Regions from separate parts of the Homo sapiens genome. Here all the other regions are linked to region 1. The links come from fine-mapping of genetic effects on plasma protein levels. A gene starts in region 1. Each other region holds a variant in brackets. All regions are shown on one strand. Distances are between the middles of the regions.

Region 1 (4,093 bases):
AGGAAGGGAAGGCGCTGAGGTGCTGAGGCCAAGGCCGCTGACCCCTGCCTCTGCAGAGCAAACACCCAGTCTGGCGCTCCTTTATTGCCAAAGTCCAAGGTGGGAACAGATAGGTCTGGGGGCATGGGGGCTGGGCCTAATAGGGGCCGGGCATGGATGGGCCTCTCCTGCTCACCGATCCTGGGCTGGGCATCTTGTCCTTGGTGGGTGGGGGCCAAGGAAGGAGTGGTGGGGCTTGGCCCAGAGTCTGGTGTGGCTGTGACTGACCACAGCTTGTGATGCCCCAGCCAAGACCTCAGGCACACCCCGTCCCCCACTCCGCCCCCCCTGGGTTAGACAACTGAGAGTCACAGTGTGGTGGGAGAAGGGACGTCATTCCTCTAAGGGACAAGCTTTTGGCCCCTCCCCACACCAGGGCAGGTACTTATGTCGGGGCTTATGCAGGGCAGAAGGGCTTTGGCCAGGTCAGCTGCCAGGGGCTGGGGCCCAGGCTCCCCAGGGTCTGGCGTGGTGCATCAGGGGCCTGGTGGGGGCTTACCGAGGATGACGGGCCGTGTGTGGTTACTGAGCTCAGCCTTGGGCGTGGTGTGCGGGGGGAAGAGCACATTGAGGAGCCAGAAGGGGGCGGCAGGAGGGAGCAGCAGCCCCAGCAGCAGCGTCACCCACTGCCATGGGGAGCCGGGCGGCCCCATTCCAGCCCTGGTGCCTACTGCCAGAGAAAGCGGCACTGGGCTGTCCTTATCTGGTGTGGGAGTGGGAGGGGCCCTAGGGCCAGTGGGAGGGACGGCCTGGCCAGTGGGGGTTGTGGCCAGAGATTGCCGGAAAGGGGCACAGCCTCAGGGAGCCGGCTCTGGGCCTGGGTTCAGTTCCGCCTTCTTCTCTTGGCGCCAGGGGAAACAGAGCCGGGGCAGCAGGAGGCCCAGAACTACACAATGTTTTATTGAAAAAGTCAGGCCTCAGCTCAGCTGTCTCCATTCGGCTCAGCTTGGTGGGGGGCCCTGCCCATAGTAGACTGAGCCAGATCTTCCTGCAGGCAGCTGGGCTGGACTCCCTCCCTGGCTACCCTTCCCTTCGTCTCTGATGGTGACATCCAAACAATAAATATGCAATAAATAGCGCTCCTGGGCTGGGCCGGGCCGGCTGCCTTCAAACCCCACTCGGCCCCTACCAGTCTTCTCTGGCCAGGACAGGCCTACTGGGGTGCTAGATAGTAAAGTCCCCAAACATCCCAGGGTCCCACAAGACCTGGGATCCATCTCCATTTTGAGGCCCAGGCCTGGTTTCCAAGGAGACCTAGCAAAGCTGGGTCCAGGACAGGGCCAGGCAAGCAGGGCTGGCAGGTGGGTGCTGGGAAGAGGCTGTTACCCCAGACCACAGCTTGTTATGTCCTGGCCAAGACCTCGACTCCAGGCCACAAGATGACACTGGGCTCAGGAGTAGATGGTGATGACTTCACGGCCACCACCGCGCACCAACAGCACCCGCTCAAGGCCCTCGGTCAGCACCTCGAGGAACTCCATGTCTGCAGGGCCTCAAGTCAAGGAGGCAACAACAGAATCAACGGGCAACCCGGGCCACCTGGGCCATGCCCACCCAGGGGTGCCCAGGAGAGAAGCCGCTGGCTTGACCTCCCATGCTATCCACCTCCCAACTGCCTGCCTCTCCACAAAGGGATACAGTTCTCGTCGCCCTCACTGTTCCTGGGTGGGCCAGGCATGTTTAGGAGAACCAGGCGGGCGTCGTGGGAGCGCGTGACAATGACTTCATTGAGCTTCACAGCAGTGTGCATGCGCCGCACATTGGATTGGTCCCTACACGTAGTGTAGCCAGTCACAGGTCGCCATGAGCCATCCTGCAAGGAGGGTCCCCACCCCTGGCCCATCTAACACTACTTGTCTGCCCCACCCCACCTCCACCCCTAGATTCCAGTGCCGCTGGGGCTGTTTTTGCTGCACTCACGGCTTAATGTGCACCAGCTCCCGGAAATTGTCAGGGGCATGGCTGGGGTCCCAGGTCTCAGTCATGTACTTGTCCCTGGTCCACGTCATCTGGATCTTGTCAGCCCCCACTGCAGACTCATCTTCCTCGTCCGAGTACAGGCTCTCCAGCCGCAGGGCCGAGTGCCGATCCTTGACCAGCTGGGCCTGAGGACAATTGCAGGAGATAGCCTTGGTCCCATAGGAAAAGGGGGATGGGGCCTGTCTGGCCCAATGTGACCACCTTGCCTCCGGGAAATGAGCACTAGCTTGGGTAGGGCTGCGGTGAGTCATTCTGATTCCTCCGCACCCACCGATGCGGTCTCCAAAGGCCTGACCCTGCCACCCGCCCTGGCGTGAACCACAAAGGGCACTGACTTCTCGCTCCCGCTCAGTCTTGGTCAGTCTCATCTGCCGCAGCATCTGCGACCGCTGCTCCATCATCAGCGTCCGCTCGTAGGTGTATGCAGAGATGTCACTGTTATGCTGGGGACAGGGTTGGCCGTGAGGACCCAGCTGCACGGGACATGGTATCCACGGGGCCAGGGCAGGGCAGAGGGCTCACCATCTCCACCACCTCCACCTCGGCCTCAAGGCGCAGATGGTACAGAAAGACAGCCAGGTCCTTCTTCATCTGGATGCTGTTGTCATCCATCTGGGCCACTGTGAAGATGCGCATCCGGCACTTCCTCCAGACCTGAGGCAAGGGACCAGGTGGGCGGTTTGGTCACAGCTGCTCCTCCAAGGGCCTAGCCCCTCTCATCTGCACCCACCCCCTGGTCTACCTTATGCTGGCGCAGCAGGAAGGGCAGAAGCATGAGCATGCCACCATCGTGCACGATCCACCACACGTCTATGTGGCCCTCCAGGTAGCGCTCGTGGTTGCTGGGGTAGAAGGCGATGTTCTTGGGCACGAGCAGGGCCAGGTGGGCAGCCGTAGTGCAGCGCACGGTGTCTGGGGAGGAGGAGCACGGCTGACCACCAGTCTGTGGCCCTCCGCCCACTGCCACCTCACTTCACCCCTGCCCACCAGGCCCCAGGCCTTCACACACCAATGAAGGTCTTCCAGGCACGGGGGTCCTCGCTCTGTCGCCAGCCGTAGGGCCAGCCCAGCACCACGGAGTTATGCCGCATGCCTCCCAGGCCACAGGACTGGATGAGGTGGGCCAGCCCCTCCCGCACCTTGCTGGCCACCACCACCTGGCAGAAGCCCTTCACCTTCTCAATTTCCATCATGTTCTTGATGGTCTGTGGGGAACACACCCAGGGCCAATGGGAGGCCATCAGCTTCCTGCCTCTGGGCTCCCTCCCAAGGCCCCTCGGGAACAAAACGACTTTTGGGTGGAGGAGGGCCTGGGGGCAACAAGCTGCCTACCCAGAGGCCAAGTTTTCAAGATGGGACTGCTGGCTCCCCCTTGTGCCAGCTCTCAGGTGGCAGCAGTGCTGGCTGCCTGGCTGGCCACCCTGGCCAAGACTGGGCCCTCCCCTCCGTGCCAGCTGCAGTCCAGACCCCTGTAGTCTGGCTCAGCTCTCCCTCCCCAAAGCAAGTACCTGCTCGGCGGCCTGAGCCTCGCCATAGCTCTCCAAGAAGCTCCCCTGGATGACAGAACCAACAATGGTCAGGCCCTTGCCAGCCTTGAGCTGGGAGGCGAAGGTGAGGAGCCGCGGGTACTTCACGTGGAGGTCCTCGTCCAGCTTCAGCAGCACCAGCAGCTGCGGCCTGCAGTGGCCGGGTGGGGGGAGCCTGAGACCAGGGCCGGCCGTTCTAGGGAGCCCCTCCTCTTCTTCCCTTCTCGGGTCGTGGTCCCTGCAGGTTTGGGTAGCATGGCCCAGGAGGGTGCCCCGGGCAGCCCCAGGATGGGGAGCCGGCACCTCTCGACCCTCTGACCCCGACAGCGACCCCTAAGAACCTCTGCGCCCTGGCCAGGGTCTGGCGGGAACTCACCGCCAGTTCTTGGTGTGAGGAGGCCCCTCCTCCAGCCGCAACAGCGCGTAGCGGGCAGCGCTCAGGGACAGGCCTCGGATCCCGTCACCCCACTCCTTCTCAGCCCTGCAGATTCCACCACAGCTGGTGAGCCCCTGGTGCCGCCCAGGGGGTTCTGTCTATGTGGATGCGA
Region 2 (4,113 bases), 740 kb after region 1:
CTGCACTTGAGCCTGGGTGACAGAGCAAGATCCTGTCTCAAATAATGGTCTCAAGCAATCCAGCAGCCTTGGCCTTCCAAAGTGCTGGGATTACAGGCATGAGCCACAATGCCAGGCCCCCCAGTTTTCTCAAACATCACCACCACTCCACTGGGAACCATTGATCTAGGGCTTATTAATACAGTTACTTTTAGGATGGTCTGAGAGGCCCCATTAGATGTGCACTCAGGAAACACGGGAGTGTTTATGTTACAGAGAAAGGGCAGCACTGTTGCTAGTGAGGGCCTCAAGCCCCTCAGTATTGGTGTTTTCCTTCTCACATCTCAACTGTCCTGCACAGGACCTCCTCTCAAAATGGTGGTCCAGGTCCTTCTTCCTCTTCTCTCCTAGGGTTTGGATTTTGAGGCCAAAAACCAGCACACCCTGTACGTTGAAGTGACCAACGAGGCCCCTTTTGTGCTGAAGCTCCCAACCTCCACAGCCACCATAGTGGTCCACGTGGAGGATGTGAATGAGGCACCTGTGTTTGTCCCACCCTCCAAAGTCGTTGAGGTCCAGGAGGGCATCCCCACTGGGGAGCCTGTGTGTGTCTACACTGCAGAAGACCCTGACAAGGAGAATCAAAAGATCAGGTACTCAGGAGCTGGGCTCAGTAAGCAGCACGTACTGGTACAGTTGGTGGGTGGGTGATCATGGCCAACGTTTGTTCTGATTACCATAGAGATTGTTAAATAGGAATATCCCTCCTGCATAGGTTCTCTTCTTCCTACCCTCTTTGAGGCTGAAGACTGAATAGGGGTTTGGGGGCAGGTATTTCTCACTCTGTCATGTATCCCTCCTGGGACTCCTGCACCTGCTGCTTTAGGTCCCCGTTTATGGGCGAGGTGCATTTTCCATATGATCCTGCTTAGGAGCCCAGAGGCCATCTGCCAGTTGGTATGAGGAGGCCCTGAATGATGACATCAGAATTCTAAATATTCTGGATGTACTCGTCTCAACTTTTCCTCTCCAGCTACCGCATCCTGAGAGACCCAGCAGGGTGGCTAGCCATGGACCCAGACAGTGGGCAGGTCACAGCTGTGGGCACCCTCGACCGTGAGGATGAGCAGTTTGTGAGGAACAACATCTATGAAGTCATGGTCTTGGCCATGGACAATGGTGAGAGCATCCTCCCAGCCCTCCCACAAGGGCCACTTTTGGTTCTCAGGTCACATGACACAGCACAGCATGTTTCCTCCACAGGTGGGAACATGTGTCGAGGAGGGCTATTTGCAAACCAATCCAGACGGTCAAAGGGGTCTTTCAGAGGAGTCTTTTAAAGACTGGTCCTAGGCCGGATGCAGTGGCTCATGCCTGTAATCCCAGCACTTTGGGAGGCCAAGGCAGGTAGATCACCTGAGGTCGGGGGTTCGAGACCAGCCTGGCCAACATGGTGAAACCCCGTCTCTACTAAATATACAAAAAATTAGCCGGGTGTGGTGGTGTGCACCTGTAGTCCCAGCTACTCCGGACGCAGAGGCAGAAGAATCACTTGAACCTGGGAGGTGGAGGCTACAGTGAGCCAAGATCGTGCCACTGCACTCCACCCTGGGTGACAGAGCGAGACTATCTCAAAAAGCAACAACAACAAAAGACTGATCCTAGGGACTGGCCATGATTCCAATTTCCCTAAAACCCAAGAGTTGGGAGGGAGCCAGGTGTGGTGACTCAGGCCTGTAATGCTAGCACTTTGAGAGGCCTAGGCAGGAGGATCACTTGAGCCCAGGAGTTCAAGGCTGGCCTGAGAAACATACAGAGACCCTGTCTCTACAAAAAATGAAAAATTAAAAAATAAGAGTTAGGGCCGGGCATGGTGACTCAAGCCTATAATCCCAGCACTGTGGGAGGCTGAGGCAGGTGGATCACCTGAGGTCAGGAGTTCTAGACCAGCCTGGCCAACATGGCAAAACACTGTCTCTACTAAAAACATAAAAAATTAGCTGAGTGTGCCGCCTCCCAGTTCC[C/T]GCATCAGTGGCCTGCACAGGGCCCTTGGGGCGAATTGCAGCACGCCTCGGGGCGAGCGGCAAGGGCTGGGGTGAGTGCACCTGCACCCAGGCGGTCTTTTCACGTGTCGCCAGGGTCAGACCGCATGTCTCTCCTTGCGGCGCTACACAAGAGCAGAGTACGAGTCTGAGGTGGAGGGAGTCATGGCAGGACAAGCATTTAGAAAGTTTCTTCCACTCTTTGACCGAGTATTGGTTGAAAGGAGCGCCGCTGAAACTGTAACCAAAGGAGGCATTATGGGTCCAGAAAAATCTCAAGGAAAAGTATTGCAGCAACAGTAGTTGCTGTTGGATCGGATTCTAAAGGAAAGGGTGGAGGGATTCAACCAGTTAGCGTGAAAGTTGGAGATAAAGTTCTTCTTCCAGAATATGGAGGCACCAAAGTAGTTCTAGATGACAAGGATTATCTCCTATTTAGGGATGGTGACATTCTTGGAAAGTACGTAGACTGAAATAAGTCACTATTGGAATGGCATCAACGTGAAGCTGCCCATTCCACTGAAGTTCTGAAACCTTTCATCATGTAAATAATTTCCATATTTCTCTCTTATAATAAACTAATGATAACTAATGACCAAAAAAAATAAGCTGGGTGTGGTGGCACACGCCTGTAGTCCCAGCTACTCAGGAGGCTGAGGCACGAGAATCACCTTAACCCAGGAGGTGGTGGTTGCAGTGAGCCGAAATTGTGCCACTGCACTCCAGCCTGGGCAACAGAGTAAGACTCTCAAATAAGTAAATAAAACATCAGCATTAGGAAAGTCCCTTCAGCCTTAGTTTTTGGTTCACTGGGTCCTGAATTGGCCTGTCAGTTTTCCCTTGTGATTGATTGATAGGGGCTGACTGGAAAGTGCCATGACAGATTAGTGATGCCACACCATAACAGATGGGAGGTTATGACGTAGTTGTCACCTCTGGTTGACATGTAATGAACCAGGACCTGCAGGCAGGTGAGAGGTTGCAGCAGGGCTGTGAAGGGAAGCTTCCCTGAAGCTGATCGACAAACACTGGAGTAACCCTGAAGTAGCCGGTAGGTTTCGCCTTGTGGTTATAGTGGCTGTCTGGATGAAGTGGCTGCAACTGTGTCATGATAGTTAGTAATGTCTGCTGTGGACAGAAATGAGAATGATGGCTCAACTGGCATGTATGTGCCATGTATTGGAAGCAAGGGCATGGAAGGTCTTGAGAGGTGAGAGCTGGGCGGTAAACAGGAGGAGCCCCCCTGAGGCTGACTGGGTGGGTCACAGGGAGCTCATCATATGTGTCATTACAAACAGGAAGCCCTCCCACCACTGGCACGGGAACCCTTCTGCTAACACTGATTGATGTCAATGACCATGGCCCAGTCCCTGAGCCCCGTCAGATCACCATCTGCAACCAAAGCCCTGTGCGCCAGGTGCTGAACATCACGGACAAGGACCTGTCTCCCCACACCTCCCCTTTCCAGGCCCAGCTCACAGATGACTCAGACATCTACTGGACGGCAGAGGTCAACGAGGAAGGTACCTGAGTGAGTGGTGGTAGCGGGTGGGGTGCCAGCCCCACTGGTGGGCATCTGCCCCACACCAGGATTCTGCACACGTTCCTATCCTAGCATCTTGTGGGCCATGGGGACAATGATCTCCTCTAGAACCTCAATCAGATGCTATTTATTAACCTGGTGGAGGTCTTTGAAATTCCACAGGACCCCTAAAAGACCATTCTAGCCCAACCGCCTTCCTGTGTAGATGGAAAAACTGAGGCCTCGAGGAATCGAACCTATGTAGAGCATGTGAAGTGGACCTGGCACAGAGCATGCTCAGTGAGTGTTGGCTACGATCACTGTGCTGGGTCCTGACTCTCGCTATGTGACATGGGCCAAGTCACTCCCTCCCTCTCGAGGCCTCAGTTTTTCCATCTACACAGGAAGGCGGTTGGGCTAGAATGGTCTTTTAGGGGTCCTGTGGAATTCCAAAGACCTCCACCAGGTTAATAAATAGCATCTGATTGAGGTTCTAGAGGAGACCGTTGCCCCCGTGGCCCACAAGATGCCCACCACACCCGGCTGCGTTATGGCTTTAAAAATAATGTC
Region 3 (4,113 bases), 650 kb before region 1:
CATCGCTGCCCACCACGGGGGGGTGAGTCACTTTGAGGATAACCCCTAGGCTGTCCACCTCACTGGCCTCGGGCAGAGGCTGCTCAGGGGCAGGGCTTTCTGTGAAAACAACATAGGGAGGGGGCTCTCCTTTTAAAAAAAAATTTTTTTTCAAGATAGAGTTTTGCTTTTGTTGCCCAGGCTGGAGTGCAATGGCACAATCTTGGCTCACTGCAACCTCTGCCTCCCAGGTTCCAGCGATTCTCCTGCCTCAGCCTCCTGAGTAGCTGGGATTACAGGCACCTGCCACCACGCCCGGCTAATTTTTGTATTTTTGGTAGAGATGGGGTTTCACCAGGCTGGTCTCGAACTCCTGACCTTAGGTGATCCACCCGCCTCAGCCTCCCAAAGTGCTGGGATTACAGGCGTGAGCCACACGCACAGGCTTTTAAAATTCTTTTCTTCAATTACCATCAAATCTTCATAAGCAGGGACTCTCCTTAAGCCACCTCAGAGCCCAAGCAGGAAGGGGACCTCTGGTGACAGGCCAGTACAATCAAGTCACCCCAGCCTTGCAACAGCTGCCACCTCTAGTTTCTCAGAAGTGACACCCTGGGCTGGCAGGGGCCTGTCCTGGCCACTCCTCTCTTCATTGCCCTGGCATCACTGCAAGCCAAATCCTGAACATTTTGGAACTCGAAGAAACTCCAGATTCCTCTGTTGAACTAAGACGTATCAAATGGGGCTGAGGGCTGGAAATCTTTATAAAATTTTAAGTTGAGAACTTTTGGGGCCAGCCTTTGATGCATGTCCAAAGAGTGGACATTTGTCATCCCAACCTTGACAGACCAACTTAGGGCTCACAGGCAAGAGTCCAAGAAGGCCCCTCCAAGCAGGGCTGGAGCCACTAATAGGGAAGGTGACAATACTGCAGGCAGGGCTTTGAGGGAGCAGAGGCAGCATCCTGGCACAGCGATTTTCAGCACAGTTCCCTGGCCACCTTCCCTTAGCTGGCTACACAAGCTCTCTCTCCAGTTCAGTCCCTGTAGCCCCTGCTGTCTCCTGGGCTTCTCCACCTGGATGTCCCTCGGCATTTCACACTCAGTATGTGCCCTTCCCCAAGCTCTGCTCTTTCTCTTACCCACACCTCAGTAAGGGCCTATCCACCCCCTTGCAGTCCCACAGGCTAGAAACCTGGCTTCTCCTTGGCCCATCCCTCCTTCCCTCCACTACCTGCCTAGCCTGCTTCCCCTAGCCTAGAAAGAACTCCAAGTGGCTTCGAATACCTAGCTCCTGCTGCATTTCCTCTGCTCCTGGAGCAAACTTTCTGATGGGCACACCTGACCCCGTGCTCTTGTCTAAAATCCTTCAGACGCTGCTCACTCCCATCCTGGTCAGAATGGAGTACCACGTCCTGAAGCTGGCCCACGAGGCCTGTCCTTATGACTTCTGTCTTCAGCCTCATCTTTTATCACGTCTGCATGTGAAGCCTGGCCTCCAGCTAGACCCATGCCCTGCGCTTCCAAACATCCTGGACTTCTCCTTCCTTCCCCTGCTGACTCCCCAGCCCTCAGCCTCTTTTGTGCTCCTGCTTCATAGGCACCTCCTTCCCACAGCACTCATCCCTTC[G/A]CCGTGTGTGTTCTCCTGGCCCCTCCAGCCATGCCAATGTGCCAGTCATTTCTGTGTCTGCTGCCTGGCACAGAGATGGCATTGGTGAGCGGGGGGGTCTAGTCCTCCTTTGTCACTAACTTGCTCTGCCATCTTGGCCAAAGAGTTTGCCTTCTCTGTTGTGAATAAGACTTAGATCAAAGGGGGACAGGACTCACCTCTCTCCTTGGTCCTCTGCTTGCTCCAGTCCTTCAGGGTGCCAGCTCTTTTTGGGGGTAAGTATGGCTTGAAGGTTGGCTCTGGCCCCTTGTCTTTCGCTCCAGCTCCAGCCCCTGCCTGTGGTCCTGGATCCTTCTCTGAGGCTGTGGAATGGGCTTTCCAGGCAGCTGAGGTGCTGGGCTGGGAAGCAGCCTCGCTTCCCAAGGGGAGCTGCAGGGTGGCCTCCTCCAAGGGGCTGCTCCGTGTGGCTGTCAGTGGCTGGAATTCCCACTGTTTGCAATTGACCATGTCCCATTCTCTCACCAGGGAGATGAGTTTTTGCATGGGAGTGGCGGGAGGGTCTTTGGTTTCAGATTTCTGTGTGAGGTTGATTGTGGTGCATTTCTTCTTTGGGGGGCTCTCAGGGTGGCTCCCCCAGTGTCCAGGATTGGTACACAAGCCACGGCAGTGTGAGTATGTGCTAGGGTTGCCAGCCCTCTTGGCATTTCGGCATAGGGACACCTGGATGGGCCGAGTGTACTGCTCAGCCTCATCCATCTGGTTGGACCTGACCAGGTTTCCCTTAGCCTTGTTCCATGGAGTCCTGTCACTGCAGTCTTCGAAGTCCACAGGCATGTAGGCTGTGGTCTGGGGAGGGAAGGGCACAGTAACTCTGGATAGGTTGGGCATGGACATCAACGCCTTGCCCAAGATCTAATAAGCTGGGCCTCCAAGACTTCACTTGCTCTCCCTGAACAATCCCATCCCTGACAGGGGTCACCCATTTGAGCTTTGCTCAGGCTGAGTGGGGATGGTGCCAGCCCAGTGGCCTGTCATTCCAACAGGAGATACAATCAGCATCGCAGGCCACAAGTGGCCAGTAAGTTCCTGTGCCTCCTTCACGGTTCAGAAGCCAGGTCCTGTCCTAGGAACCCATGTAGGCTCTGCTCTTTCATTTTGCTGCACCCACCAGTAGCTGAACCTACCCCCATCCACCCTGAGCCCGGTGGTAGTGGTTTTTGAGGATAACACCAACCAGAGGAGGCTGGTGCTTACTTCTTTAGTGTCTCTACTGAACTCCACCAGTGACCCTGGCCCTTCTGTCACCACATGCAGCCTCCTGATGGAAAAAGCTTCTTCATTTTCAGATTCTTTCTCCTGAGTCCATGACCTGCAGAAACCAAGAGGGGTTGGTTAGTGAGTAGAGACTTCCATCAGGCCATTGGCCAGTTGGTCAGATCTGCTCTTTGGCTGGGAGTTAATGCTAGACAGCAGGGAAGAAGGGGCTCTTAAAGGGTTTTGCCTAGGTCACTGGCCAATCCTGGGCCTGCTTCACTCCCTCAACCCCAAGGAGATCAGGATCCTCTAGGAGTAGGACTTAGGACAGGATTTCAAGAGGAATTTAAAGGACCAAATTCTAAACATAGAGTCGTGATAAAGTTTTCTTACTTGTATGCTTCACATTGTGCAAGGGCTTCTGAGAGGGATGGAATGTGGTATTCCTCCACCTCCTGGCAGAAGAGGGGCCATTCCCTGCAAACAACAAGGAGATATCCAGCTGGGCAGCTAGGATGAGGGTGTGGGAGGGAGCATGAGCTCCTGGAACTGCCGCTGCCAACAGTTCCCACGATGGAAATAAAATAACCTCCTCCCTGAAGGCTGCAACTCAGGTCTCCTTTGTTGCTAAGGGAGGGGTCAGCCTTCGTGATTTCATCTTACTGCGTCCTTGCTTCACTTACTTAAATTCAGATGGTAAAAACAGTTTGCCAAGTCTCAGGAAGTTGAGAATGTGTCGGAACATCTGGCCATCCCCGTGGATGAGCAGGGTTTGTCCATATGTGATCCAGTACACTCTCTGAGGGTTGGACAGCAGTTCTGGATACTGGAGGGGGTTGGACACCGGACTCAGTCTCAGAGGCTAGGTCTTTGCGAAGGGGCAGGTCAATCTTCTCTCACTCCCCTTTTCCAACTACACTAGAGCAGAGGCTTTGAGATTCCATTTCCCTGTCTTGTCAGTCACAAGGAACCATGGTGGGGAGCAGAGCTTCCAGGGAGAAGCACATCATCCCTGCTTCAACTTTTGATGGCCCCTAGACCACCCTCTCAAGGCATTTGGAAGCCCACCGTACCTCCTTCTCAGTCCAGGTCCCTCAGAGCTGGCCCCCTCCCTATGCAAACTCTGGAGGGCCTTCCCAGCAGGCCACTCGGTCCACTTGTGCTCTGTTTTGTTTTGTTTTTTGAGGCAGAGTCACACTCCGTCACCCAGGTTGGAGTGCAGTGGCGCGATCTCAGCTCACTGCAACTTCTATCTCCTGGGTTCAAACAATT
Region 4 (4,000 bases), 1.0 Mb before region 1:
GGGGATTCAGTCCATTTCCCTCTTATGATTGTGGCTGTAGCGGGTGCTGCCGGCCGGTAATAACAGTAATAGCTTCTGGCAGCATCTGGCTCTCAGTGTGTGGCGTCCTTGGCCAGGGGGGATGCCCTGAGCCCTCCAAAGGGGCCTCAGACAAGGATAGTGGTCCTTGGGGAACAGAAGCCCCCAGGCGCCAAATCCTAAAGCAGATCTAAGAGGCCACAGTGGCTGGGTGCGATTGGCTCACTCCTTTAATCCCACCACTTTAGAAGGCCAAGGGAGAGTATCGCTTGTGCCCAGGAGTTGGAGGCCAGCCTGGACAACATAGTGAGACTCGGAGTGTACAAAAAATTGAAAGAAATTAGTGGGCTGTGGTGGTCTGTGACCTGTAGTCCCAGCTACTTGGGAGGCTGAGGTGGGAGATCACTTTAGTAGGGGAGGTTGAGGCTGCAGTGAGCCTTCATCCCACTACTGCACTCCAGCCTGGGTGAAAAAGCAAAAATCTGTCTCCAGAAACAAGAACCAAAGAGCTCGTGGTGTCCCTCATGCCATTTACCTCATCCTGGGCAAGGGCACAACTTGGCTTCCAGGGCAAAGGTGAAGGCTCTGTGTGCCTGCCAGGCTTCTCCAGGCCCTTATCAGAAGCTGGGGGAGTGTTTCGGCCTTTGGTCCTCTCACCCGAAACTCTCCTAAGTGTATGATCTGTCTCTTCCAACCCTTCCCCAATTTAATTTGCGCAGGTGGAGTCCATACTCCCCCCGCCCCATGGTGCACTGCTGCAGGGCTTCCTCCCGTGCCTGCCCTTGACCACATTCTAGAGTTCACCAGGAGCCCAGCAGGAAGATCTGCCTGGCCTCACAGATGGCTACCTTTTAAAATATTTTGGGCCAGGCACAGTGGCTCACACCTGTTATCCCAGCACTTTGAGAGGCAGAGATGGGAGGATCACTTGAGGCTAGGAGTTAGAGACCAGCTTGGGCAACAAGACTTGTCTCTACCAAAAAAAAAAAAAAAAAAAGTCAAGCATGGTGGCAGACAGCTGTACTCCAAGCTACTCAGGAGGCTGTGGCGGGAGGATCTCAAGCCCAGGAGGTGGAGGCTGCAGTGAGCTGTTATCATATTACTGCATTCCAGCCTGGGCAACAGATGGCGACCTTGTCTGACAAATATATATGTATACAAAATTTTGGGTTGGACCCACATTCAGAAAAAATAATTGACAAGCCATAGGAGGGTACAGGTGATGTGTGCCATCCTCTTTTTACCCAACCAGTCCTGGCTTCTCCTCAGGGGCCATCAAAGTCCCCATGGCCCACACTGGAAACTGCTTGTTGACACCGCAGTACACACAGTGCCCAGCAGTTTACACAAGAATAGATGTGTGCACTTGTCCTTGATTTTCATCTAAACAGTCATAAACTCACCCACTTTCTGGAGCCAGGCTTTTCTACAGCTGGGACTACAGGCATGCACCACCACACCCCGCCAATTTATTTCCTGATTTTTTTGCAGAGACAGAGTCCCACTATGGTCCCCAGGCCAGTCACTGTGCTTTTTATATCCCAGCCACAGCCATACTTTTCTCTTGCACCTCTTTTCACCAACATCACTCATGGTTTGGATGATGCTTTCTTTACATGATTTCTTGCCACTTTGGACATGACATCCCTGAGGACAAGAAACTTGCCTGCCCAATTCCCACCATCATCCTACTGTCACATGACCTGGCACACAGTTGAAGGACACTCTAGTCCCATCAAGGGCATGTGACCCTTTGTTTGAAGGTCCTAGGGCTGAATGATGATGCCTGGCCCCAAGGAGCCTCAGCCTGGTGGGATGGAGACAGGCCCAGGAAGCCAGAG[C/T]GGGAAGGGAGTGTTACAGGCAGGAAGTTTGTAAAGCCCATGTTTACAGATCAGAGTCCCTTGAGCTAAGATGAGGATGGCAAGGAAGCAGCAATACCAACAGTTGGGAGGGCAGTCGATTGGTCAAACCCAACCGTGATGTCTGTCTCTCTGCCCACAGGCCAGGACTCAGCCAGTCCCATCCGGACCACACACACGGGGCAGGTGCTGGGGAGTCTTGTCCATGTGAAGGGCGCCAATGCCGGGGTCCAAACCTTCCTGGGAATTCCATTTGCCAAGCCACCTCTAGGTCCGCTGCGATTTGCACCCCCTGAGCCCCCTGAATCTTGGAGTGGTGTGAGGGATGGAACCACCCATCCGGCCATGTAAGCTCTCCAAGGGGTCCAGGGAACTCCAGGCCCTGGGGCAGGGGTGGGGGTGCTCTGAGCTCAGCTAGGCTGCAGTTATCATTTCATCTAAACCCCCACAGCCAGTTTTCCTTCTGAGTTTCGTGGATTCCCACGTGCATTTTTCCAATGAGCATGCTGAGGCTCAGGAGGGCAGAATAACTTCTCAGACTCCTGGATCAGGGCTTGGCATTCAGAAGACATTGGCTCCAGGTGCCGAAGGGAGGGGCAGACACACGTATCTCCCCAGATTCTGGTTATGCCAAGCTTTCTCTGCCACCAGTGGCAGGTGTCTCTGGGAAAGGTTCGGGTTGGCTCTATGAACCTTGTAGGAGCCCCTAACTCTAGTGGCAGATGTTGCAAATACCTGAAGAGAACAGTAGTGGTAGCTTTCTGGGGACCTGCACTCTCCACAGGCACTGTGTCCACTGACAGGACCAGGAGCCATTGGCCAAGAGACATGTATATGTATATGTATATGTTTCCAACTGGAGGCCATGTAGGAATGATGAGTTTTTGAGAGTTTAGACTTGGGATGAGAGACATCCCACTGCCCTTCTCATGAGAAATTAACATCCATTCACTCATGTAGCACACATATGTGGGCTACTCCCCTGTCCCAGGCCTTACGGGTTACAGGAATATAGTGGTGAATGTCAACACATGCAGCCAATGGTTCTCATAGAAACCCCTAAGAGTCAAGGTTTCCGGCAGTGCGAGGAATGATACCCAAGGTCCTCAGTAACCTCGAGGCCTCCCTGGAAGTCCAAGCTGCATCCCAGCTTCCCCAGAGCCTGTGGCCTGTAACTTGGTGGGAAGGGATTTTTGAGAGGGATCATGTGTGAGCAGGATATTGTGGGAAGGGTCTGAGGGTGGCTGGGAGCACCTCTGAACCCAGGGTCTGGTTTTGGCCACAGCCTGGCCCCTGGACTGATTATTTGCCCTGGTTACCAGGTGTCTACAGGACCTCACCGCAGTGGAGTCAGAGTTTCTTAGCCAGTTCAACATGACCTTCCCTTCCGACTCCATGTCTGAGGACTGCCTGTACCTCAGCATCTACACGCCGGCCCATAGCCATGAAGGCTCTAACCTGCCGGTGGGTGTCAGGCCACAGTTCACTGGGGGTTGGAGGACAGTTCTTCTGCAAGAAGCTGAAAAGGACAATATTAGCTCAGGCCCTGCTTCAGAGTGGACCATGCTGAGAAGCTTCTCACTGTCAGGTCCAAGAAATGCTCCTTACCCAGACTGGGCAGCTGGCCCCTGGACATGGGGTCACAGAGTTCTGGCTGCTCCCAGAGGTCAAAGGCTGTGGCTCTGGGCTGGACCCAGGACTCACTCAGCCAACTCATGCCAGGAGATCCACTTAAGTGCCAAAGGGCTGCACCTTGAGGTGACCAAGAACCCCAGCCATGGATAATCTGTTGGGCCTATAGAATGGGCACACACAAAAACTTTTTTTCTTAGAGATGGCATCATGCTCTGTTGCCCAGGCTAAAATGCAGTGGCATGAACATACCTCTCTGTAACCTCGAAATCCGGGATGATCCTCTCAGATTAGCCTCCCGAGTAGCTGGGACTACTGGCCTATTCCACCATGCCTGGCTCATTTTTAAAACATTTTCTGTTGAAACGGGGTCTCACTATGTGGTTCAGGCTAAGGACATTTTTGGTTAATGTTCATGTGGAGCCATCAGGGAGACACCCCTTTTCTTTCCACTTTGGTGAATTATCTGGGGTTAATGAACCCAGGCTTTG
Region 5 (4,000 bases), 470 kb before region 1:
GGCCTGGCGCGGGCCTAACTGCCACCAGCCAGTGTACTGGTGACTTCCAGGTTAATATCTTTAGTGTTACTATCTCACACAGCCAACTGCCTGCCGGACTCCCTCAGACATCTGAGATAGAATACTTCCCCTCCCACCCCCCAATCTGCACCCCTAACTTTCCTATCCCTTCTCTGGTAGCCCGTATCTCAAAAGGAGCTCCAGCATCCACCCAGTCATTTATTAAGCCAGCAGCCTGACTTCTAACCCTCTTCACCCACATCTAATAAAAACTGGACCAATCTTGTGGGTTTCATCTCCCAAGCTGATCTCTGACCTGGTCCTTCATCCCCCCTCATTCCACTCCAGCCCTGGTTAGTCCATATTCTCCTACCTAGAGAGCTGCAAGAGCAGCTAGCAAGTGTCCTGCTTCTGGCCTGCTCCCACAAATCCATCCTCTAGAGCCTCAGAGCAAGTTTCTTTTTTGTTTATAATTGACGTGTAACAATTGCACATATTTATAGGATACATGTGATATTTTGATACATATATACACTGTGTAATGAATGATCAATTCAGGGTAATTAGCATATCCATCAACTCAAACATTTATTATTTCTTTGTTTTTGAGACAGAGTCTGGTTCTGTTGCCCAGACTGGAGTACAGTGGGGGTGACCCTGGCTCACTGCAACCTCTGCCTCCTGGGTTCAAGCAATTCTCCTGCCTCACCCTCCCAAGTAGCTGGGGATTACAGGCATGCGCCACCACGCCCGGCTAATTTTTGTATTCTTAGTAGATATGGGGGTTTCACCATGTTGCCCAGGGTGGTCTTGAACTCCTGACCTCAAGCGATCTACCTGCCTCAGCCTCCTAAAGGGCTGGGATTACAGGCATGAGCCACCACACGTGGCCTATTATTTCTTTGTGTTGAGAACATTCAAAATCCTCTCTTACAGCAGTTTGAAAATATATAATGAATTATTGTTAAATACAGTCACCCTATGGTATAGAATAGAACTTCTCCTATCTAGCTGTAATTTTATACAGATTAATCATCCCCTCCCTCAGAGCAAGTTTCTTTTTTAAAAAAAATTATTATTAATTTTTTTTTTGAGACGGGGTCTCTCTCTGTTGCCCAGGCTGGAGTGTAGTGGTGTGATCACGGCTCACTACAGCCTCAACCTCCCAGGCCCAAGCGACCTTCCCACCTCAGCCTCCCATATTATTATTTTTTTAGAGATTGGGCCGGGGGGTGGTTCTCACTATGTTGCCCAGGCTGGCCTCAAACTCCTGGGCTCAAGTGATGCTCCCACCTCAGCCTCCTCAGTGGCTGAGATTACAGGCGTTAGCCACCACACCAGGCCCAGTGAGTTTCTAATTGTATCATACCACCAACCCTACCTCCTCCACAATTCCCCTTTTCTTCACCCAGTGAGGGGTTAGGTTCCCACACTGGCTCATGACAGCGAGATGCCAAACCTCCCCCCTGCCTAGCCCTAGCCTCCATTCCTGCTCTGGGGCCTCATTCTCGCAGGCAGCAGCAGCAGCAAGCTGGAGGGGAGCAACAGGTGCAGCAGGCTGCCAGACACCACCAACAACCTGTGCCAGTTCATCCGCCACTGAGCACTGGGGTCCCCTTGTGCAGCAATGCCACTGCCCAGGGCAGTGGGGCCAACAAGAGGGAAAAACTTCAGGCTTGTGTGGGGTCCAGGCTCTCACAACTCAACATGCTCATTCCCTTTCTTCCACAGAGTAAATGTTCCTTC[T/C]ATTATTGCCTTCTGCACACCCTTCTCCCAATGCCCTCCCCCAGCCCCCAGCTCCTCTCTCTTGCTTGTAGTCACTAGATTGCCAGTACCATGTCATCTCTTCCTTTGGATCACGTTTGACTCAGAGGAATTTAGGACTGAGCTAAGCTCATCTTGCTGTCCAAGTTGTGGTCATCTAATTTCACCAATTCAATAGAGTTTCCTTTGACAAACAAAATGAAATGTATAAAATATTTCCAGGCGGCTGGGCGCGGTGGCTCATGCCTGTAATCCCAGCACTTTGGGATGCCAAGACGGGAGGATCACGAGGTCAGGAGATCGAGACCATCCTGGCTAACACGGTGAAACCCCGTTTCTACTAAACAAAATACAAAAAATTTGCCGGGCGTGGTGGCGGGTGCCTGTAGTGCCAGCTACTCGGGAGGCTGAGGCAGGAGAATGGCGTGAACCCAGGAGGCGGAGCTTGCAATGAGCCAAGATCGCGCCACTGCACTCCAGCCTGGGCAACAGAGCAAGACTGTCTCAAAAAAATATATATATATTTCCAGGCAAGAGCATACACAGAAAATCCTAAACAAGACATTTCCTACACATTAACCTTAATCTAAGAATCTCTCTCTTTTTAAAACAATTTTTTACCATAACTTTCATCCTTCCTGAGCAATATGTCCTTCTAAGACACCCACAGCCTTCCAGGAACCAGCCCAATGCATCTATCCAGACCTCGCTGCTGCAAATCCTCGACACACACTCTACTTTCTCCTTCCACCTCCCAAGGCTGCTGTCATGCACGAGGCAGTTTCGTGTTTCTGAGACTACTAATGCCATTCCTTCTCCCTATGCTCTTCCCACCTCTTGGCCTGGCTAATTTGGGGCTGGGGGGGGTGGCGCAGCAACAGCTTTACTGAGATATAATTCATTTGCCATACAATTTGCCAACTTAAAGTGTACAATTCATGGTTTTAAGCATACTCACAGAATTGTGCAACCGCCCCACAATCAGTTTTAGGACTTTTTTTTTTTTAGATGGAGTCTTACTCTGTCACCCAGGCTGCAGTGCAGTGGTGCAATCTCAGCTCATTGCAACCTCCACCTTCCGGGTTCAAGCGATTTTCCTGCCTCAGCCTCCCAGGTAGCTGAGGTTACAGGTGCCCGCCACTACGCCCAACTAATTTTTTGTGGTTTTGTTTGTTTGTTTGAGACAGAGTCTCGCTCAGTCGCCCAGGCTGGAGTGCAGTGGTGCAATCTCGGCTCACTGCAAGCTCCACTTCCCAGGCTCATGCCATTCTCCTGCCTCAGCCTCCCAAGTAGCTGGGACTATAGGCGCCCACCACCATGCCTGGCTAATTTTTTGTATTTTTAGTAGAGACGGGGTTTCACCGCATTAGCCAGGATGGTCTTGATCTCCTGACCTCGTGATCTGCCCACCTCGGCCTCCCAAAGTGCTGGGATTACAGGCATGAGCCACTGCACCCAGCCAATTTTTTGTATTTTTAGTAGAGATGGGGGTCTCACCATGTTGGCCAGGCTGGTATCGAACTGACCTTGTGATCCCCCCGACTCGGCCTTCTAAAGTGCTGGGACTACAAGCATGAGCCACCGTTTCTGGCCAGTTTTAGGACGTTTTTATCACCCCAAAAATAAAGCCCATACCCATTAACCGTCACCCACCACATAACATCCCCTCCCTAAAGTACCCTGCACTTACTGTGCACTCAATGCTGTTTTGATGGTCACTCAGTCTGCCTGTTAGACAGGCACACTTGCCCTAAGCAAGACCTGTGTGACATACTTGTATTAGCCACTCAAGGCCCACCATGGCACCTGTCTCCTAGGAGTGACAGCAGGGAATGACCACAGTGGAGCACCTGGCCTCTCCAACTGTTCACTTGGTCCCAGGCCCTGTGCTTACACTTCACAAACATCTCAGAGACCCTAATATTATTCCCATTTTACAGCTGAGGATAAATGACTTGTCCAAGGTCACAAAACCAGTTAAGTGGCTGCGCTGGGATCAGTCCATCAGTAAGGTCTTCTCTAACTGTCTAGACATTGTCTCTGCCCATCCACTGCGGTCACCTTCTAGCCTCACCTTCTTCTGTTCTCATTAAGGTCTCCTATGACCTCTGAATGGCAAAACCAAATGGAAGGCTGACTTTATCAATCTCTTGGCCACATTTGGCACTCACTACCTCATTTATTTTCAGGCTCTCCTTTGGAGCTACCCACATTTCAGGGAATGCCTTTGGCCTTT
Region 6 (4,113 bases), 260 kb before region 1:
GCCTCAGCCTCCCAAGTAGCTGGGACCACAGTCGCGTGCCACCATGCCTGGCTAATTTTTAAACTTTTTTGTAGAGACGGGATCCCACTATGTTGCCCAGCTGAGAATTCAGTTTCTAACAAGCTCCCAGGTGATGCTGCTGCTGGTGGAGCATACCAAGAACCAGAAAAAAAGCAAGCTTGTTGCCAAAGAACCCTGGGGTTTCCTCTTTCTTCCCGTATAGCTTGGAAATGGTCTCTGTGGGGAACCCTAAAATTCAGGAAGAAGACTGAGAGCCTCCAGAGTTCTGGCTCCGGACACACCTCACCTTTCCAGCCTGCATTCAAGCCACAAGGGATGGCAAGGAGTCAAGTGACCAATAGCGGCTTGCTTCCCCTTGAACCAACTTGCTGCTAAAGTGTTGACTTAGGTCTATTTCTGAATTCAATCTGGGAGCCACCATCTGACCTCCCAAGCATTTGGTGACCAATGAATGAATAACTCCAATGTCACACATCCTCAGAGAGAGCTCTCTGGAAGAAACAAACAATAAGGCCAAAACTTACTTGCTCCAAATTGACAACCGGACAGACTGAAGTTCTTTCTCACTTCAAAGAACATTTATCCTTCCCTACCCACTGAGCCAGAGGTGACAGACACCTTCCTATGACATTCCTCAGAATGAGGGAGGAGATAAGTAGCAGACCCTGAGGTTTGCCACCATGGCAGTGGTCAGGAAGAGTGGAGGACAACCTCATGGCACCGGTTCCTCGACCTAGAGATCTTCGGCTGCATCAAGGAGACACTTGGCTCCTATTACCTCACATAAAACAGTTACTCAGTCAAGTAAGTATGTGCTAGTTGAATTGTGACTATGTCTTCTGTCATCTACCTTGTAATGTGTGTTATTTCTAGTTGCCTCAATTGGACTATAAAATCTGAAGACAGGGAGGGGTCCAATCTAACACAGCTTTGAATGTCCAAAATGACATCAGGACAGTGACTGGCACACAGGAGGCATTAAAAAAATAATTGAGGCTGGGTGTGGTGGCTCCTGCCTGTAATCCCAGCACTTTGGGAGGCGGCCAAGGCAGGTGGATCACCTGAGGTCAGGAGCCCGAGACCAGCCTGGCCAACATAACAAAACCCCATCTGTACTAAAAAGACAAAAATTAGCTGGGCGTGGTGGCACATGCCTGTAGTCCTGGCTACTTGCAAAGCCGAGGCAGGAGTATCGCTTGAACCTGGGAGGTGGAGGTTGCAGTGAGCTGAGATTGCACCAATGCACACTCCAGCCTGGGCAACAGAGTGAGACTCCATCTAAAAAAATAAAATAAAATAATAATAATAATTTTAAAAAAATGCTGGGCATGGTGGCTCACACCTGTAATCCCAGCACTTTGGGAGGCCGAGGCGGATGGATCACCTGAGGTCAGGAGTTCGAGACCAGCCTGGCCAATGTGGTGAAACCCTGTCTCTACTAAAAATACAAAAATTAGCTGGGTGTGGTGGCAGGCACCTGTAATCCCAGCTACTTGGGAGGCTGAGGCAGGAGAATCACTTGAACCTGGGAGGCGAAGGTTGCAGTGAGCCGGGATTGCGCCATTGAACTCCAGCCTGGGCAACAAG[A/G]GGGAAACTCTGTCTCAAAATAAAATAAAAATTGCTGGCTGAATGTTTACTGGTTTGTTTACTTAGTAAACTAGGTTCTGATTTATATTAGATAAAGAGAAGAAGTTGACTCCAGTTGACTGGAAATAGAAGACCAACGGGAACTGTAGGAGAACAGCTCAGCAGGCCATGCCCAGTCAGGGGCAAGAGGTTACCAAGCCCAAAACTTCCCAAGGGAGTGGAGATGTCATGTAAGCAGGCTGTCGACGGATCCTGTCAGGGAAGCCCAATGCTGGCAGAGCCTTCCTGTCCTCCGGCAATACAAGACTGCAGTTTGGCAGGAAGGGTGTGTGCTCACTATAGTCAAACGCTGACAAAACATGGGAAATGGTAGCCTTGCTACACAGCCTCTCCTTCCTGTGGTGCTGTGTGCCCCAGAAATGGGAGAACAAACACACTAGTCACAACCAATTCCCCGCCACCCAGGGCTCTGACCTCTAACTTCACAGAGGCAAACTTTATGTTGACTGAGATGCAACCATCTCCAGCCCCTTGATGGCTGTCTCTTAGAGTATTTCCTTAATTTCTGTTCAGGGATTTACAGATGGGAGGTAGGTTAGGCTATGTCTTTTTTCATGCCCTCCCCAAGCACTGCTTCAGGGACAAGTGATGTCCCAGAGTTCTCCTCCCTGCAGATGCGAGCCCAGGAAGGAGAGCTCAGAGGAGAGGAGTGACCCTCAGAGGACTGCCCAGAGGGAGAGACATGATCTGCCCCTGCTGTGGCCTGCCGGGCGTACCTAGAGCCTTCACGGATATCTGCCGGGTGAGTGGAGGGGGGATGCTGATGCACACCAGATCCACATCTTGATGCAGCAAGATGTCATCAGTCCGGCTGGTGTAGAAGGCGATGTTCATCTCCTCAGCAAGCTGCTTCGCCTCCTCCTCAGTCTTCCCCCACAGGGCCTCAACAGTGAACCCTTCTGCCCTCAGCAGTGGGACCAGAACTCGGGCGGAGCTGCCAGTCCCAAACACGCCCACTCCTGGCAGCATCTTCATCCCAGCCTCTCTCTTTACCAACTCATCTCCTCACAAGAGCCTCTGGCATGGATATGATCTTCCAAACGTCCTGGTCAGACATGGCTCCTAGAATAGCAAACATTACACTGGTTATTACTGGAGAGGACACTCAGCTGAGGCTACTTTCTTTTTTTTTTGAGATGGAGTCTCGCTCTGTTGCCCAAGCTGGAGTGCAGTGGTGCGAAGGCTACTTTCAAATAAGGAAGTAACAAGTTCTCTGCCAGAAAAGCACAAATGAAATAGGGCTCGAGGCCAGGCATGGTGGCTCATGCATGCCTGTAACCCCAGCATTTCAGGAGGCCGAGGTGGGAAGATCACTTGAGGCCAGGAGTTTGAGAGTAGCCTGGGCAACACGGCGAGATGTCATCTCTATTAAAAAATATATATATTAAAAAATAGCCAGATGTGGTGGCATGCGCTTGTTGTAGTCCTAGCTACCTGGGAGGCTGAGGTGAAAGGATCACATGAACCTAGGAGTTCACAACTATAGTAAGCTATGATTGTGCTACTGCACTCCAGCCTGGGCAACAGTGCAAGACCTTGTCTCAAAAGAAAAAAGAAATACTGTTCCAAGATGAAACACTGCAGAATCTTCTTCTTCCATGGAGACTGAAGGATAAGAGGAAAAACGGAAAATGAATAAAGTTGAGTTTAAATCTCTGTTCTGCTACTTAACTTTCTGTGTAACCCTGGTCAAAAGATTCAACTTTCAGGGCCTTAAATGTATAATAAGGGGAGTGATTGATCTTTAAGGTTCCTTCTTGCTATAAAAGTTCATGATTCTATATATGACAAAGAAAAGAAGAGTGGAGGCCAGGCACAGTGGCTCACACCTGTAATCCCAGCACTTTGGGAGGCCAAGGCGGGCGGATCACCTGAGGTAAGGAGTTCAAAACCAGCCGGGTCAACATGGCCAAACCCCATCTCTGCTAAAAATACAAAAAAAAAAACTAGCCAGGTGTGGTGGCAGATGCCTGTAATCCCAGCTCTTCAGGAAGCTGAGGAAGGAGAATCATTTGAACCCAGGAGGCAGAGATTGCAGTGAGCCAAGATCACACCACTGCACTCCAGCCTGGGCGACAAGAGTGAGACTCTATCCAAAAAAGAAAGAAAGAAAGAAAGACTGGAGGCCGGGCGTGGTGGCTCATGCCTGTAATCTCAGCACTTTGGGAGGCTGACGTGGGTGGATCGCTTGAGGTCAGGAGTTCGAGACCAGCCTGGCCAACGTGGTGAAACCCCGTCTCTACCAAAAATATAAAAAGTTAGCCAGGTGTGGTGGTGCAAGCCTGTATTCTCAGCTACTCGAGGGGCTGAGGCAGGAGAATCACTTGAACCTGGGAGGTGAAAGTTGCAGTGATCTGAGATTGTGCCACTGCACTCCAGCGTGTGTGACAGAATGAGACTCCGTCACAAAAAAAAAAAAAAAAGAAAAGAAAAAGAAGAATGGAA
Region 7 (4,000 bases), 200 kb after region 1:
CCAAAAAATAAAAATAAAAAATTTAACCAGGCATGGTGGTACCCACCTTGAGTCTCAGCTACTTGGGAGGATTGCTTGAGCCCAGGAGGTTGAGGCTGCAGTGAGTTATGCACTGTAGCCTGGGAAACAGCAAGACCATGCTAAAAAAAAAAAAAAAAAAAAAGGAAAGAAAGAAAGGCTATATAGTTATAAAATTGGGTTTTATTTATCTAAAAATATTAGCATTGTAGGAATTACTTGAGATACGTTACTTTTTTCAAAATGTGAAAATCAGCTGGAATTGTCAATTTTTAATTTAAAATAGGTAATAGTAACTCTATGTAACATACTGTTTATAGACAAAGATGAGTATTCTTTAAGAGGTTTTATATTGTCTTTTTAGTAAATAGTGCTGGAGCAATTGGACACCCATAAGGCAAAAGAATAAACCTTAACCCAAACCTCACATCTTTCTCAAAAATTAATTCAAAATGGGTTGTGGATTTAATTATAAAACACAGGTCAGGAGCGGTGGCTCACACCTGTGACCCCAGCATTCTGGGAGACTGAGGCGGGCAGATGACCTGAGGTCAGGAGTTAAAGGCCAACCTGGCCAATATAATGAAGCCCCATCTCTACTAAAAAATAACAAAAATTAGCTGGGCATGGTGGTGCTCACCTCTAGACCCAGCTAAGTCTGGAGGCTGAGGCAGGAGAATTGCTTGAACCCAGGAGGTGGAGGCTGCAGTAAGCTGCTATCACACCACTGCACTCCATCCTGGGCAACAGAGCGAGACTCCATCTCAAAAAATAAAATAACCTAAAAAATAAAGCATAAAAGTATAAAACTTTTAGAAGAAAACAGGAGAAAATCTTTAAGATCTCAGGCTAAGCAAAGATCTCTAGAACATAATACCAAAAGCACCATACCTAAAAGAAAAAAATTGATAAATTGGATTTCATCAAAATTAAAAACTTTAGCTCCGTGAAAGATGCTATTAAAAGGATGAAAAGACAAGCTACAGACAGGGAGAAAACATGTGCAAAGCATATATCTGTCAAAGATCATAGAATGTATAAAGAACTCTCAAAACTCAACAATAAAAACAGTTCAGTTAGAAAAGATGCCAAAGACATGAACAGACATCACCAGCCATTAGGGAAATGCAAATTAAAACCACATTGAGTTATCATTACATACCTATTAGAACAGCTAAAATAAAAAATATAATACTAACTGTTGTCAAGGATGCACAGAAACTGGATGCTTCATAAACTGCTAGTGAGAGTTAAAATGATACAGCCACTCTGGAATATAGTTTGTTAGGTTCTTAAAAAACTAAGCTTCCCTTATGCCCCACCAATCTCACTCTGGGGCATTTATAACAGAAAAAAAAAAACTTATGTTTACACAATAGGTATACTAATAATATTCGTAACAACTATGTATTATCATTATCATCATCATTATTTTTTTTTGTAGACACAGTGGTTCACCATGTTATCCAGACTGGTCTTGAACTCCTGA[G/A]CTCAAGCGATCCATCCACCTTGCCCTCCTAAAGTGCTGAGATTACAGGCGTGAGCCACTGCGCCTAGCCTCAACTTCATTTTTTTATTTTTTTTATTTTTTAGATGGAGTCTTGCTCTGTCACCTAGCCTGGAGTGCAGAGACTCCATCTCAGCTCACTGCCACCTCCGCCTCCCAGGTTCAAGAGATTCTCCTGCCTCAGTCTTACGAGTAGCTGGGATTACAGGTGCCTGCCACCACGCCCAGCTGATTTTTACATTTTTAGTAGAAACAGAGTTTCAACATGTTGGCCAGGCTGGTCCGGAACTCTTGACCTCAGGTGATCCACTGGCCTCAGCCTCCCAAAGTGCTGGGATTACAGGTATGAGCCACCGCACATGGCTGCCTCAACCTGATTTTTAAAAATTTTTTTCGTAGAGATGGCAATCTCACTATGTTGCCCAGGCTGGTCTACAACTCCTAGCCTCAAGTGATCCTCCCACCTTGGCCTCCCTGCCGTGGGATCACAAGCTTGACCCACTATGCCTGGCCTAACAACCAACTTTTCTTTCTCTCTCTCTTTTTTTTTTTTTTTTTGTGATAGGGTCTGGCTCTGCAGATTGCACATCACCCAGGCTGGAGTGCAGTGATGCGATCTCAGCTCACTGCAACCTCAGACTCACAGGCCCAAGCCGTCCTCCAATCTCAGTCTTCCTAGTATATGGGACTACAGGTGTGCGCCACCATGCCCAGCTATTTTTATGTTTTTTGTAGAGATGGGGTTTCACCATCTTGTCCAGGCAGGCTGGTTTTGAACTCCTGAGCTCAAGCGATTCATCCACTTCAGCCTTCCAAAGTGCTAGGATTACAGGCATGAGCCTCCACGCCCTGCTGCACTTTATTTTTAATAGCCCAAGGTTATAAACAAACCAAATACACGAATAAACTCTGGTGTATCCATACAATGTACTACCACTCAGCAATATAAAAGAATAAACTGTTGATACATGCAACAACTTGGACAGTTCTCCATAGACTTATGCTGAGTGGAAAAAAGTCAATATACTATATGATTCTATTTATGTAATATTTTCAAAATGACAGAACTGTAGAGATGGACAATAGATTGGTGCCAGGAAACAGGGTCAGGTTGAGGGGTGCAAATATGAAGGGGTGGCCCAAGAGAATTTCTTCATATCTTGACTGGGGTAGTAGTTATTTGAATCTATATATGGGATAAAATTGCATAAAACTATATACACACATACAAATGAATGCATGTAGAACAATGACAACTGAATAAGACCTGTAGTCTAGTTAGCAGTATTGTATCAGTGTCAATGTCCTGGTTTTGATACTGTGCTAACTACAGTTCAATATTGTGGGTATATGTACTGTATTATAGTTGGGGGAAACTAGGTGCAGGGTACATGGGGCTATAGTATCCCTTGTCTGCTTGGGATCAGAAGTCAGAAGTGTCTTAGATTTTGGATTTTTTCAAATTTTGGAATATTTCCAGAATACATACTGGTTGAGCATCCCTGATTCAAAAATTTGAATTCCAAAATGTTCCAGTGAGCATTTACTTTGGGTGTCATATCAGTGCTCAGAAAGTTTCAGATTTTGGAGCATTCTGGATTTTCAGATTAGGGATATTCAACCTGTAGTACATATACATACTATTTTTGCAACTTCCTATGAGTCTAATTATTTAAGAAGAATAAAAGTTTTAGCCAGGTGTAGTGATGTGATTCTGTAATCCCAGTTACTTGGGAGACTGAGGCAAGAGGATCACTGCTTGAGCCCAGGAGTTTAAGGCCAGCCTGGGCAACATAGCAAGACCTTGTCTCCCAAAAGAAAAAAAAAAAGGATTTTTTTTAAAAAGCTTATATATTATACAGTGGTAAGTTTTATTAAGGTATACATATTTTGAATCTTATCCCAAAAGTTACTGAAATTTGAAAAATGAAGTTTGTATTATTTTTTCATTTTTATGCATACTTTCATTTTAAGCAATTTATATTATAGAAATTTAATTTTGTATTTTTAGTATTTCTACAATGTGTTGTCATGGGTCTAATATATTTAGAGCCCATTCCCCCAACTAATCAGCAGAACTGATAATGGAACTGCTCTTATTGAAGTTGCTGTAGTCTGTCCTGTAGTGACCTTCAGGCTTTAACCCTCCAGCTTTAGTTAAATTAAGCAGGCACAGACCTTTGCTATGGAAACGATACAGAAACATAACAAACAACTTGGCTTACTTTCTTCTGCGAAGCAGAGGGTGGACTGAAGAGATTACTGATACTGGTGAAAGTTTTTAGAGACTAGTGTTAACAGTAGTAGTAATTTATTTATTGCCTACAACATAAATGCTTCTCTGGAAATCAGATGGGATAATAGTCTAATTAGTTTATTTGATCTTCCTTTAAAAGTCTCTCAGATAGAAAGGCATAGCCCTATTTTTCTTATGGTATTATACATCTGGAACAGATGTTGGTCAAAATATGTGTT

Alleles and levels. Positions count from the first base shown, and alleles are read on the strand shown. Strength reflects both the effect of a copy and how common the allele is.
For the plasma level of the protein whose gene starts at base 711 in region 1, C is the high allele of the variant in region 2 and T is the other (weak association).
For the plasma level of the protein whose gene starts at base 711 in region 1, allele G in region 3 goes with a higher level than allele A (weak association).
As copies of T replace C in region 4, the plasma level of the protein whose gene starts at base 711 in region 1 goes down (moderate association).
With allele C in place of T in region 5, the plasma level of the protein whose gene starts at base 711 in region 1 is higher (moderate association).
For the plasma level of the protein whose gene starts at base 711 in region 1, A is the low allele of the variant in region 6 and G is the other (moderate association).
For the plasma level of the protein whose gene starts at base 711 in region 1, A is the low allele of the variant in region 7 and G is the other (weak association).

Evidence for each region. PIP is the posterior inclusion probability: the model's chance that the variant is causal. The UK Biobank Pharma Proteomics Project read protein levels with antibody pairs (Olink). The fine-mapping took linkage between variants from a reference panel, not from the people measured, so its PIPs are less certain.
Region 2: its variant is fine-mapped to the plasma level of the LCAT protein (UK Biobank, PIP 0.92).
Region 3: its variant is fine-mapped to the plasma level of the LCAT protein (UK Biobank, PIP above 0.99).
Region 4: its variant is fine-mapped to the plasma level of the LCAT protein (UK Biobank, PIP above 0.99).
Region 5: its variant is fine-mapped to the plasma level of the LCAT protein (UK Biobank, PIP above 0.99).
Region 6: its variant is fine-mapped to the plasma level of the LCAT protein (UK Biobank, PIP 0.99).
Region 7: its variant is fine-mapped to the plasma level of the LCAT protein (UK Biobank, PIP above 0.99).

What each region holds. Positions count from the first base shown.
Region 1 is chr16:67,943,410-67,947,502 of GRCh38, forward strand. It overlaps LCAT (lecithin-cholesterol acyltransferase), which reads right to left and starts at 711. Exons shown (of 6, transcript NM_000229.2): 1 at 539-711. The coding sequence starts at 692. It overlaps SLC12A4 (solute carrier family 12 member 4), which reads right to left. Exons shown (of 24, transcript NM_005072.5): 16 at 3,922-4,026; 17 at 3,528-3,696; 18 at 3,029-3,224; 19 at 2,762-2,931; 20 at 2,542-2,673; 21 at 2,355-2,462; 22 at 1,960-2,144; 23 at 1,678-1,811; 24 at 65-1,522. The coding sequence ends at 1,431.
Region 2 is chr16:68,684,193-68,688,305 of GRCh38, forward strand. It overlaps CDH3 (cadherin 3), which reads left to right. Exons shown (of 16, transcript NM_001793.6): 10 at 391-632; 11 at 1,013-1,158; 12 at 3,320-3,544. It also overlaps the pseudogene HSPE1P5. Among named protein-coding and RNA genes, the nearest start is that of CDH3-AS1, 40 kb to the left of the region's middle. The variant C/T (reference allele first, on the strand shown) is at 2,004.
Region 3 is chr16:67,291,739-67,295,851 of GRCh38, forward strand. It overlaps KCTD19 (potassium channel tetramerization domain containing 19), which reads right to left. Exons shown (of 16, transcript NM_001100915.3): 9 at 3,525-3,667; 10 at 3,235-3,318; 11 at 2,842-2,956; 12 at 1,806-2,433; 13 at 1-99. Among named protein-coding and RNA genes, the nearest start is that of PLEKHG4, 14 kb to the left of the region's middle. The variant G/A (reference allele first, on the strand shown) is at 1,609.
Region 4 is chr16:66,936,018-66,940,017 of GRCh38, forward strand. It overlaps CES2 (carboxylesterase 2), which reads left to right. Exons shown (of 12, transcript NM_001365405.1): 2 at 2,020-2,224; 3 at 3,200-3,341. Among named protein-coding and RNA genes, the nearest start is that of CES2, 2.5 kb to the left of the region's middle. The variant C/T (reference allele first, on the strand shown) is at 1,860.
Region 5 is chr16:67,470,598-67,474,597 of GRCh38, forward strand. The region is part of intron 1 of ATP6V0D1 (ATPase H+ transporting V0 subunit d1); the gene reads right to left. Among named protein-coding and RNA genes, the nearest start is that of ATP6V0D1, 8.6 kb to the right of the region's middle. The variant T/C (reference allele first, on the strand shown) is at 1,747.
Region 6 is chr16:67,683,073-67,687,185 of GRCh38, forward strand. GFOD2 (Gfo/Idh/MocA-like oxidoreductase domain containing 2) reads right to left here. Exons shown (of 3, transcript NM_030819.4): 2 at 2,385-2,730. The coding sequence starts at 2,643. Among named protein-coding and RNA genes, the nearest start is that of C16orf86, 18 kb to the left of the region's middle. RefSeq lists enhancers at 444-1,643, 2,690-2,749. The variant A/G (reference allele first, on the strand shown) is at 1,609.
Region 7 is chr16:68,143,068-68,147,067 of GRCh38, forward strand. All of the region lies in intron 3 of NFATC3 (nuclear factor of activated T cells 3), which reads left to right. Among named protein-coding and RNA genes, the nearest start is that of NFATC3, 60 kb to the left of the region's middle. The variant G/A (reference allele first, on the strand shown) is at 1,508.